Regions from separate parts of the Homo sapiens genome. Here region 2 is linked to region 1. The links come from fine-mapping of genetic effects on gene expression. A gene starts in region 1. The other region holds a variant in brackets. All regions are shown on one strand. Distances are between the middles of the regions.

Evidence for each region.
Region 2: its variant is fine-mapped to the expression of PRRG2 in whole blood (INTERVAL, PIP above 0.99).

The regions. Positions count from the first base shown.
Region 1 is chr19:49,578,764-49,583,153 of GRCh38, reverse strand. It overlaps PRRG2 (proline rich and Gla domain 2), which reads right to left and starts at 1,838. Exons shown (of 7, transcript NM_000951.3): 1 at 1,673-1,838. NOSIP (nitric oxide synthase interacting protein) reads left to right here and starts at 2,598. Exons shown (of 9, transcript NM_001270960.2): 1 at 2,598-2,639.
Region 2 is chr19:49,700,862-49,705,251 of GRCh38, reverse strand. It overlaps CPT1C (carnitine palmitoyltransferase 1C), which reads right to left. Exons shown (of 20, transcript NM_001199753.2): 6 at 3,834-3,935; 7 at 3,618-3,755; 8 at 465-542; 9 at 138-245; 10 at 1-38. Among named protein-coding and RNA genes, the nearest start is that of CPT1C, 12 kb to the right of the region's middle. The variant A/G (reference allele first, on the strand shown) is at 1,880.

The DNA of each region.
Region 1 (4,390 bases):
CAGTGCCTCTCTGACTGGCCTCTGTGGTCCACGAATGGCAATAATAGCAGCCACTTACACAGCCTGTATTCTGTGCCAGATACTGTTTACCTATATAAACTCATTTTACTTTTTTTTTTTTTTGACATGGAGTCTCGCTCTGTCAGCCAGGCTGGAGTGCAGTGGCACAGTCTCAGCTCACTGCAACCTCTGTGTCCTGGGTTCAAGCGATTCTCGTGCCTCAGCCTACCAAGTAGCTGGGATTACAGGCATGCGCCACCACACCCGCTAATTTTCTTTTTTTTTTGAGACAGAGTCTCGCTCTGTCACCCAGGCTAGAGTGCATTGGTGTGATCTCCGCTCACTGCACACTCCACCCCCCAGGTTCATGCCATTCTCCTGCCTCAGCCTCCCGAGTAGCTGGGACTACAGGTGCCGGCCACCATGCCCGGCTAATTTTTTTGTATTTTTAGTAGAGATGGGGTTTCACTGTGTTAGTCAGGATGGTCTCGATCTCCTGACCTCGTGATCTGCCCGCCTCAGCCTCCCAAAGTGAATTTTCATATTTTTAGTAGAGATGGGGTTTCACCATGTTGGCCAGGCTGGTCTTGAATTCCTGACCTCAAGTGATCTGCCTGCCTCAGCCTCCCAAAGTGCTGGTGCTGGGATTACAGGCGTGAGCCACTGTGCCCGGCCTCAACTCATTTTACTTTTCACAGGAGTCATACAAAAATTAGCCAGGCGTGGTTGTGGGCGCCTGTAATCCCAACTACTTGGGAGGCTGAGCCAGAATAATCACTTGAAAGGGGAGACAGAGGTTGCAGTGAGCCGAGACTGTGCCACTGCACTCCAGCCTGGGTGACAGAGCGAGATTCCATGTCAAAAACAAAACAAAACAAAACTTTTCACAGGAGTTTTTTTTTTTTTTTTTTTTTAGACAGAGTCTCGCTCTGTCACCCAGGCTGGAGTGCAGTGGCGCTATCTCAGCTCACTGTGACCTCTGCCTCCTGGGTTCAAGCGATTCTCCTGACTCAGCCTCCCGGGTAGTTGAGATTACAGGTGCGCACCACCACGCCTGGCTAATTTTTTGTATTTTTAGTAGAGATGGGGTTTCACCATGTTGGCCAGGCTGGTCTCAAACTCCTGACCTCAAGTGATCCACCCGCCTCGGCCTCCCAAAGTGCTGGGATTACAGGTGTGAGCCACTGCGCCCGACCAGGAGTCCTATTATTATCCCCAGTATAGAGAACAGGAAACTGAGGCACAGAGAGGTAATATAGCTTGCCGAAGGTCACACAGTGTGCAAGTGTGAGAGCCAGGATTTCAGTGAAGGCAGTGTCCGCCAGAGAAGAAAGCAAGGAGCAGGCAGCTTATCTTTCTTTCCCCACTGTGTCTACAGCACCTGACACAGATGCTTATAAACATGTCCACTGGTGATCTGGAGTCTTCCCTTCCTGGTAATTTCCACTTGTGCCTCTTTCTGTGCTCATTGTCACATCCACCCACAGACAACAAAGATTACGAGAGAGGCAGAGGCAGGGGATTAGTTATATTATTGGGTCTAGGGACCTAAGTGGGCAGGGGCCCTGGACTCCTGGGCCTAGGAGCCCCAAACTTCTGGGTCTCGGAGGGGCGGGGAGCCAGGATGCCTGGGTCCCCAAGCCAGGCTCTTCCTCCAGGGACATTCACTTACCTGCCCAGAAATGTGAGCACTGCCCCTTCCTCTTTAATCGAGAACTCCTTGGCCAGCTACAGCCAGCTGTGAAAGGGGACAGGGAAGAGGGGAGGGGATAAGGAGGAGGGGCGCCCCACTCCCGGTAACCAGGCCTGATCCCCGTTTCTGGCAGGTGGGCGGAACTTGCCATTACCTGCCCTGGGCGGGACTCAGGTAAGGGACAAAGTATTTAAAGGGACCTTGGGATAAAGGACTTAAAGGCCAGAGCTCCATGAGGAAGCCAAGGTGTCGAATACCATGGGATACCTGGGGGATTAGATTCGACCCTCCTCCTCCCTCCCGACCCCTACCCGCTCTGGCTCTCCCCTGGGAGTTCGTCTGTCCGAGCTAGAAAAATTAATATCTAGGTCTCTAGGTATCTAGAAACTAGCGGGAACGATATGCCTTAGTCCCTGGGACAGCTGGGCAGTGCCGCAGTAAATCCCTGTTTCCTGAGAGCGACTTGAACGGCTTTGATTTTCAATTTCCCAATGGCTCTGTCTGTAAAATGGGAGCGTAGTTGTCTCTTCTCAATTGTTTTAAGATGCAGCAAGAAAAGTGGATGATATATTTGGGAAAGTGGGCTTCCCGATCTCTAGGGGAAGTGATTAGTCCTTAAATTTGGGCTTGGAGAGACTCAAAACCTGGGAACCAAGCAGGAAAAAACGATCTCCCTGGGAAATGCCTCGTACATAGTAAGCGTTCCCCATATTCCCACCAGTTTCAATATCCGGAACTTTCGATTAGCTACTCACGTTTCCGGAGAGAGAAAGAGAAGAGAGGACTTGAGCAAGCCAGGCGAGGCACTTCCGCAACTAGGGGCAGCTCTACTTCCGGTGCCTTCTGCTGGGCGGAAGTGGGCGGAGCGGAGGGGGAAAATAGTGCTCCTTTCCGGTGTCGGGGCACAGTTGAAGAAGCGACCGAGGGACTGGGAGTCGTTAGTGAGGTGAGTTCGAGGCGGTGCAGGAAGAGTGTTGCTGGGATCGCTTTCCTGCGGGCTAGAGGCCTGGGGTCTTGAGGGAGACTGGGGCAAGATTTTGGATTCCCGATTCCCTGTCAATCATTATTAATACAGCTGTCCGGGCGCCCCAAGTTTGAAGCTGAACTACACTCTGCTGGAGGTGGCCAACCGTCCATCGGGCAGTTCTCTCTCTCTTTGTCTCTCTCTCTCACTATAAACTCAGTCAAGTGGTAGCTAGCATCGGCCAGTTCTCCTGAGAGTTACAGTTCTGCTGTAGATGATGGCTATTTGCTGGTGGTCCCAAGGGAAGGAGTGGACTGGGATTGCTGGGGGTCTAAGGAGTGGGAGTTGAGGAGGGAGAACTCCTTTCCTGGCCTCAGTTTCTCAGACTGTGGTGGGACGGCGGGCGATACTAGATTGTGCAGTCATCCATCGCCACCTTCTCTTCACCTTTTTGACAGCCCCTTCCCTTTCGGGGTTGGTGCAGGGATTCACGTTTTCTTGTGTGGAGCTTCGGGGTCAGGCAGTCATGGATTCCCATTCTGATTGTGCTGCTAATTCTGTGAACTTGGGGCTTGAACGGTCCTTGAGGCAGTTTGATGTTAATGTTTTCTTACGAAAATGTTCAAACTTATATAAAAGTGAGAGAAGAATACAGGAATTCCTGTCACCCAAATCACCAATGATTATTTTTGCCATACTTGCTGTATTTTTTTAAACTTAAAGAGATTAAAACAAATCGTAGGCATCATGACACTTAAGGATTGTCAAAAGACAAAATTGCAACACATTTAGTGAGAAGATCTTAATTGGCATTTATTCGTGAATCTACAATCAAACAACATCTAATTATGGAAAATAGCGTGAGTGTTCCGATGAGCTGAGCAGAGGTTGTTTTCAGAGACAAAGGGCTGAGAAAATCAGAAACGGAAAACAAAAAGCTAGTTGATTAAATTGATTAACTTGATTAAATTTCTAAGTTAAAGGTTAAAGTAGAGGGGACTTCCTTTATCAGGTGGGCTAAAACTGGGTTGTTTGGGGATTTGGCTATTATCTCTCTCCTGATATCTCAGAAGATCAGATATCAACTTAGTTTTGGCTTGGAAGCATGGAACTTTAGCATGAGTGTCTCCATTTTGGTTTGGTCTGTTGAACCTAGTGCAGGAGCTCAATCCAAACCAATGACCTTCTATAAATTTTATCTAACAGGGTGCGTGTGTAAAAACCAGAAACATTGCTGATATGACCACAATACCATCATCACACTTTAAAAGAACAACCGTAATTCTAGACTACTATCCATTACGTGGTGCAGAGTCAAGTCCAGTGTAACTGTGGGTTTGTTGGAATCAGGATATAGTTAAGTAATTGCTATCGTCTTTTACATCTCTCTTAATTTAGAACTGTTCCCCCTTCCACTCCACTTTGGTTATTTCTTGGTGTAATCGATTCATTGAAGAAACTAATTCTAGTTCAGTTGATCATCCCACCATCTGAATTTGTCCCGTTTGCTTTTTTGTGGTCTCATTTTACCTGCTTCTGTTTTCTTTCTTTTTTTTTTTAAGTATTTAAAAATAGGCCAGACACAGTGGCTCATGCCTGTAATCCCAGCACTTTGGGAGGCCAAGGCGGGCGGATCATGAGATCAGGAGATCAAGACCATCCTGGCTAACACGGTGAAACCCCTTAGCCGGGCATGATGGCAGGCACCTGTAGTCCCAGCTACTCAGGAGGCT
Region 2 (4,390 bases), 120 kb before region 1:
TGGGCAGAGCATAAGGGGCGCATTCCCATCAGCAAAGTCTGCAGGAAACCGTGGGCTGTGAGCTGCCTTCCAGGACCCACGTGGCCCAAAGGCCACAGGACCACACCTCCATCCCTAACCCACTGGGGCCCTCTCACCGGGGGTATCTCCTGGCGGTTCAGGCGGTGGCGGTACAGGAGGAGGGCATGGACGGCATTCCCAGCGCGAGCTGCCTGCAGAGGCGTGGGTGTGACATACAGGAAGTCCTGGGGACCAGGAGAGGGGATGGCAAAACACCCAGGGTCAGGTTTGCCCCCGATGGAGCCACTGACCCAAATACAGGTCCTGACCCCAAAAGAGGGTGGAATGATGAATCCCAGATGGCGCGTCTAGATCCAGGTCACTGAGCATGACCGTCACATTCCGCCCAGGTACCCCCCAACCCTAGACCTGGGGCCTATGAACCTCACCCCTCCCCTTCTCACCATCATGTAATAGTTGCTGTTCACCATCAGCGGATTTCGGGAGCGCAGGTACACAAATTCCTCCCACCAGTCACTGACCTGGGAGCGGGGTGGGGAGACACACAGTGAGGGGCTGGGGCCTGTTGGGGGAGGGACAGTAGGACAGGGAAGGCCCCAGATGCTCCTGCGTCAGGCAGGGAGGATAGAGCCAAAGAAGTCAGCCATCGTAGTCAGTAACTAGCGATCACCTAGAAATCCATCCATGGGGGATCAGTTAGCTAAACCCTGTTATACTCCGGCAGTGGAATATTACATAGCTGGTGGAAATAACAAGGTACAGCTGGGCACGGTGGCTCCCGCCTGTAATCCCAGCACTTTGGGAGGCTAAGCGGGTGGATCACCTGAGGTCAGGTGTTCAAGACCAGCCTGGCCAACATGATGAAACCCTGTCTCTACTAAAAATACAAACATTAGCCACACGTGGTGGTGCACGCCTGTAATCCCGGCTACTCGGTAGCCTGAGGCAGGAGAATCGCTTGAGTCGGGGAGGCAGAGGTTGCAAGGAGCTGAGATCGCACCATTGCACTCCAGCCTGGGCAACAAGAGTGAAACTCCGTCCCCCCCAAAAAAGAAAAACAGAACATAAATGTAAAATTTATAAAACAATAAATATGTGAAATAATATACATATGTGTAAATACATGAAAATTGTGGCCTTGCCAATACCATGATAAAATTCAAACAATGAAAAACACAAAAGAAAGCACTGTGTCACGGTTTAGCTGCTCTTGTAGGGTTTTTTGTTGTTGTTGTTGTACATAAAAAAATGGTGCGTGTGTCACTGGCAGTTGGCTTGGAGGTACAATAAAATATACAGGCTGGGCGCAGTGGCTCACACCTCTTATCTCAGCATTTTGGGAGGCTGAGGTGGGAGGATAGCTTGAGCCTCGGAGTTTGAGACCAGTCTGTGCAACATAGCAAGACCCCATGTCTACAAAAAATTTAAAAATTAGCCAGGCTTAGGGGCACATGCCTGTAGTCCCAGCTACTCAGGAGGCTGAGATGGGAGGATGGCTTGAGTCTGGGAGGTCAAGGCTGCAGTGAGCTTTGATCACGCCACTGCACTACAGCCTGGGTGACAGAGTGAGACCCCTTCCAAGAAAGAAAAAGGAAAGAGAGAGAAAGAGAGAAGGAAGGAAGGAAGGAAGGAAGGGAGGGAGGGAGGGAGGGAGGGAGGGAGGGAGGAGAGAGAGACAGAAAGGGAGGGAGGGGGAGAGAGAGAAAGATAGAGAAAGAAAGAAAGAAAGAGGCCGGGCATGGTGGCTCACGCCTGTAAATCCCAACACTTTGGGAGGCCGAGGCAGGCGGATCACGAGGTCAGGAGGTCGAGACCATCCTGGCTAACACGGTGAAACCCCATCTCTACTAAAAATACA[A/G]AAATACAAAAAAAAAAAAAAAGAAATTAGCCAGGTATGGGAGGCTGAGGCAGGAGAATGGCGTGAACCTGGGAGGTAGAGCTTGCAGTGAGCTGAGACGGTGCCAGTGCACTACAGCCTGGGCGACAGAGTGAGACTCCATCTCAAAGAAAAAAAGGAAGGAAGGAGACAGAAAAAAAGGAAGGAAAGAGAGAGAGAAGGCAGGCAGGCAGGCAGGAAAGAAGGTAGGAAAGGAGGGAGGGAGGGAGGGAAGGAAGGGAAGAAAGAAATGAGTGTGTGTGTGTGTGTGTGTGTGTGTGTGTAAACAGAATCTTGTCCAAAAGTGTGAAGAAAAAAATATTTAACCAGAAAAGCAAGGCCTGCATTCCCTTTTACTTCTCCAGATATTTCGTCCCCTTCGCTGGGTTTGACCAACTGAGGCTTCCACATAGCTGCCTCGTGGGGCTCTGCCGGGGACCCTCTTCCCTTCCCCTCTCACTCTTGCTGCAGCTTTTCTCATCCCAGCCCAGTGTCTCAATGACCTACAATGGTAGGTCTCACGGTAGCTTCCTCTGCAGCCTCCCGCCCTCCAGTCTTTCCCCCACACCAAAGCTGACCCTGCCCCTTCCCTGCTCCAAACCCTCCCATGGCTCCCTAGTACCCCCAGGAAAGAGTCCAGGATCCTCAGTCTGGAGTTCAGGCCTCTCCCACCACTCCTCACCATTCAACTCCTTTGGTTTTGTCTTTTTTTTTTTCTTTTCTTTTTTTTTTTTTGAGACAGAGTCTTGCTCTGTGGCCCAGGCCGAAGTGCAGTGGCGCGATCTCAGTTCAGTGCCACCTCTGCCTCCTGGGTTCAAGCAATCCTCCCGCCTCAGCCTCCCGAGTAGCTGGGATTATAGGCGTGTGCGCCACCAGACCTGTTTAATTTTTGTATTTTTAGTAGAGACGGGGTTTCACCATGTTGGCCAGGCTGGTCTTGAACTCTTGACCTCACGTGATCCGCCTGCCTTGGCCTCGCAACCTGCTGGCATTACAGGCGTGAGACATTGCACCAGGGCTAAGTCCTGGAATTCTGGTTCAAACTTTGGAAGATCAAGGGTGAAGCTCAGAATACTGGAGCATCTATACCCCAAACTTCAACATTAAATATATAGAGAGAGCATATATATGTTATGAGCATATATATATAAATAAATATATAAGCCTATATATAAATAAATATATATTTATTTATAATTTATAAATAAATATATATTTATTTATAATTTATAAATAAATAAATATATATTTATAATTTATAAATAAATATATATTTATAATTTATAAATAAATATATATTTATAATTTATAAATAAATATATATTTATAATTTATAAATAAATATATTTAATATATTTATAATATTTATATATTTATTTATAAATTTATATATAAATATATTTATATATAAATTTATAAATATTAATATTTGTATATAAATATAAATATATATATTTATAAATAAATATATATATTTATATATACACTATATATTTATATATAAATAAATATATATACATATATATTTTTATATATATATAAATGTGGAGGTTAGGATATAGATGTATGTGAGCGGGGCTCAGGGTATTGACCCTTGGGGGCTGGGGGCGTGTGGGTTGTGGGCGTGTCGTGGGGCAGGGCGTATAACTCGCAAGTTTAGCAGGCGAGCTCACAACCTTAGCCCTTCAGGTGGGGCGTTGGTGGCGGTGGCGGGACTCACATAATTGGACGCCCACCAGGACTTGAGCCGCAGGTACCACTGCAGCAGCGACGCCTGCAGCCTCAGGAATTCCTGCGCCAGGACCGCGGTCCAGTCGAAGTCCTCGTCGGAGAGGATGGGCCGGACCGACTCCAGGTACTAAAGGGGAGAAGAGGGCAGGTCACGCCCCCGGCCCGCCCCGGCCGCCCCAGCCCGTCTGCGCGCTCCCAGGCCCACCTTGCGCACGGTGTCCTGCACAGAGGGCACGGGCTGGCGTGGCAGGGAGCGCTGGTAACTGAACAGCATCGGGTGGCGGCCAGAGAAGATGCGGACCAGGGCCTGGGGAGGAGGAGTTACCGGGTCATTAACCCCTCACCGGAGCCAGGGAGTTGACGGGGCAGGGGTCGACAGTGGGACAGAAACCCAAAGAGAAGGACACAGAGACTTAAGAGCATCGGAGACCCCAAGAGAGAAAGGAACAGAGACCCAGAGACAGGGGACAGAGACCCAGAGAGAGGGGGACAGAGACCCAGAGAGAGAGGGGGGCAGAGACCCAGAGAGAGTCGGGGGTAGAGACCCAGAGGGGGGGACGGAGACACAGAGAGAGAGGGGGACAGAGACCCAGAGAGAGGGGGACAGAGACCCAGGGACAGAGGAGGACAGAGACCCAGAAAGAGAGGGGGAAGAGACCCAGAGAGAGAGGGACAGAGACCCAGAGAGAGGGGGACAGAGACCCAGAGAGAGGGGAATAGATAAGCGGGTCCCAGGAGAGCCTGAGCAGGGCTATGCCCCTC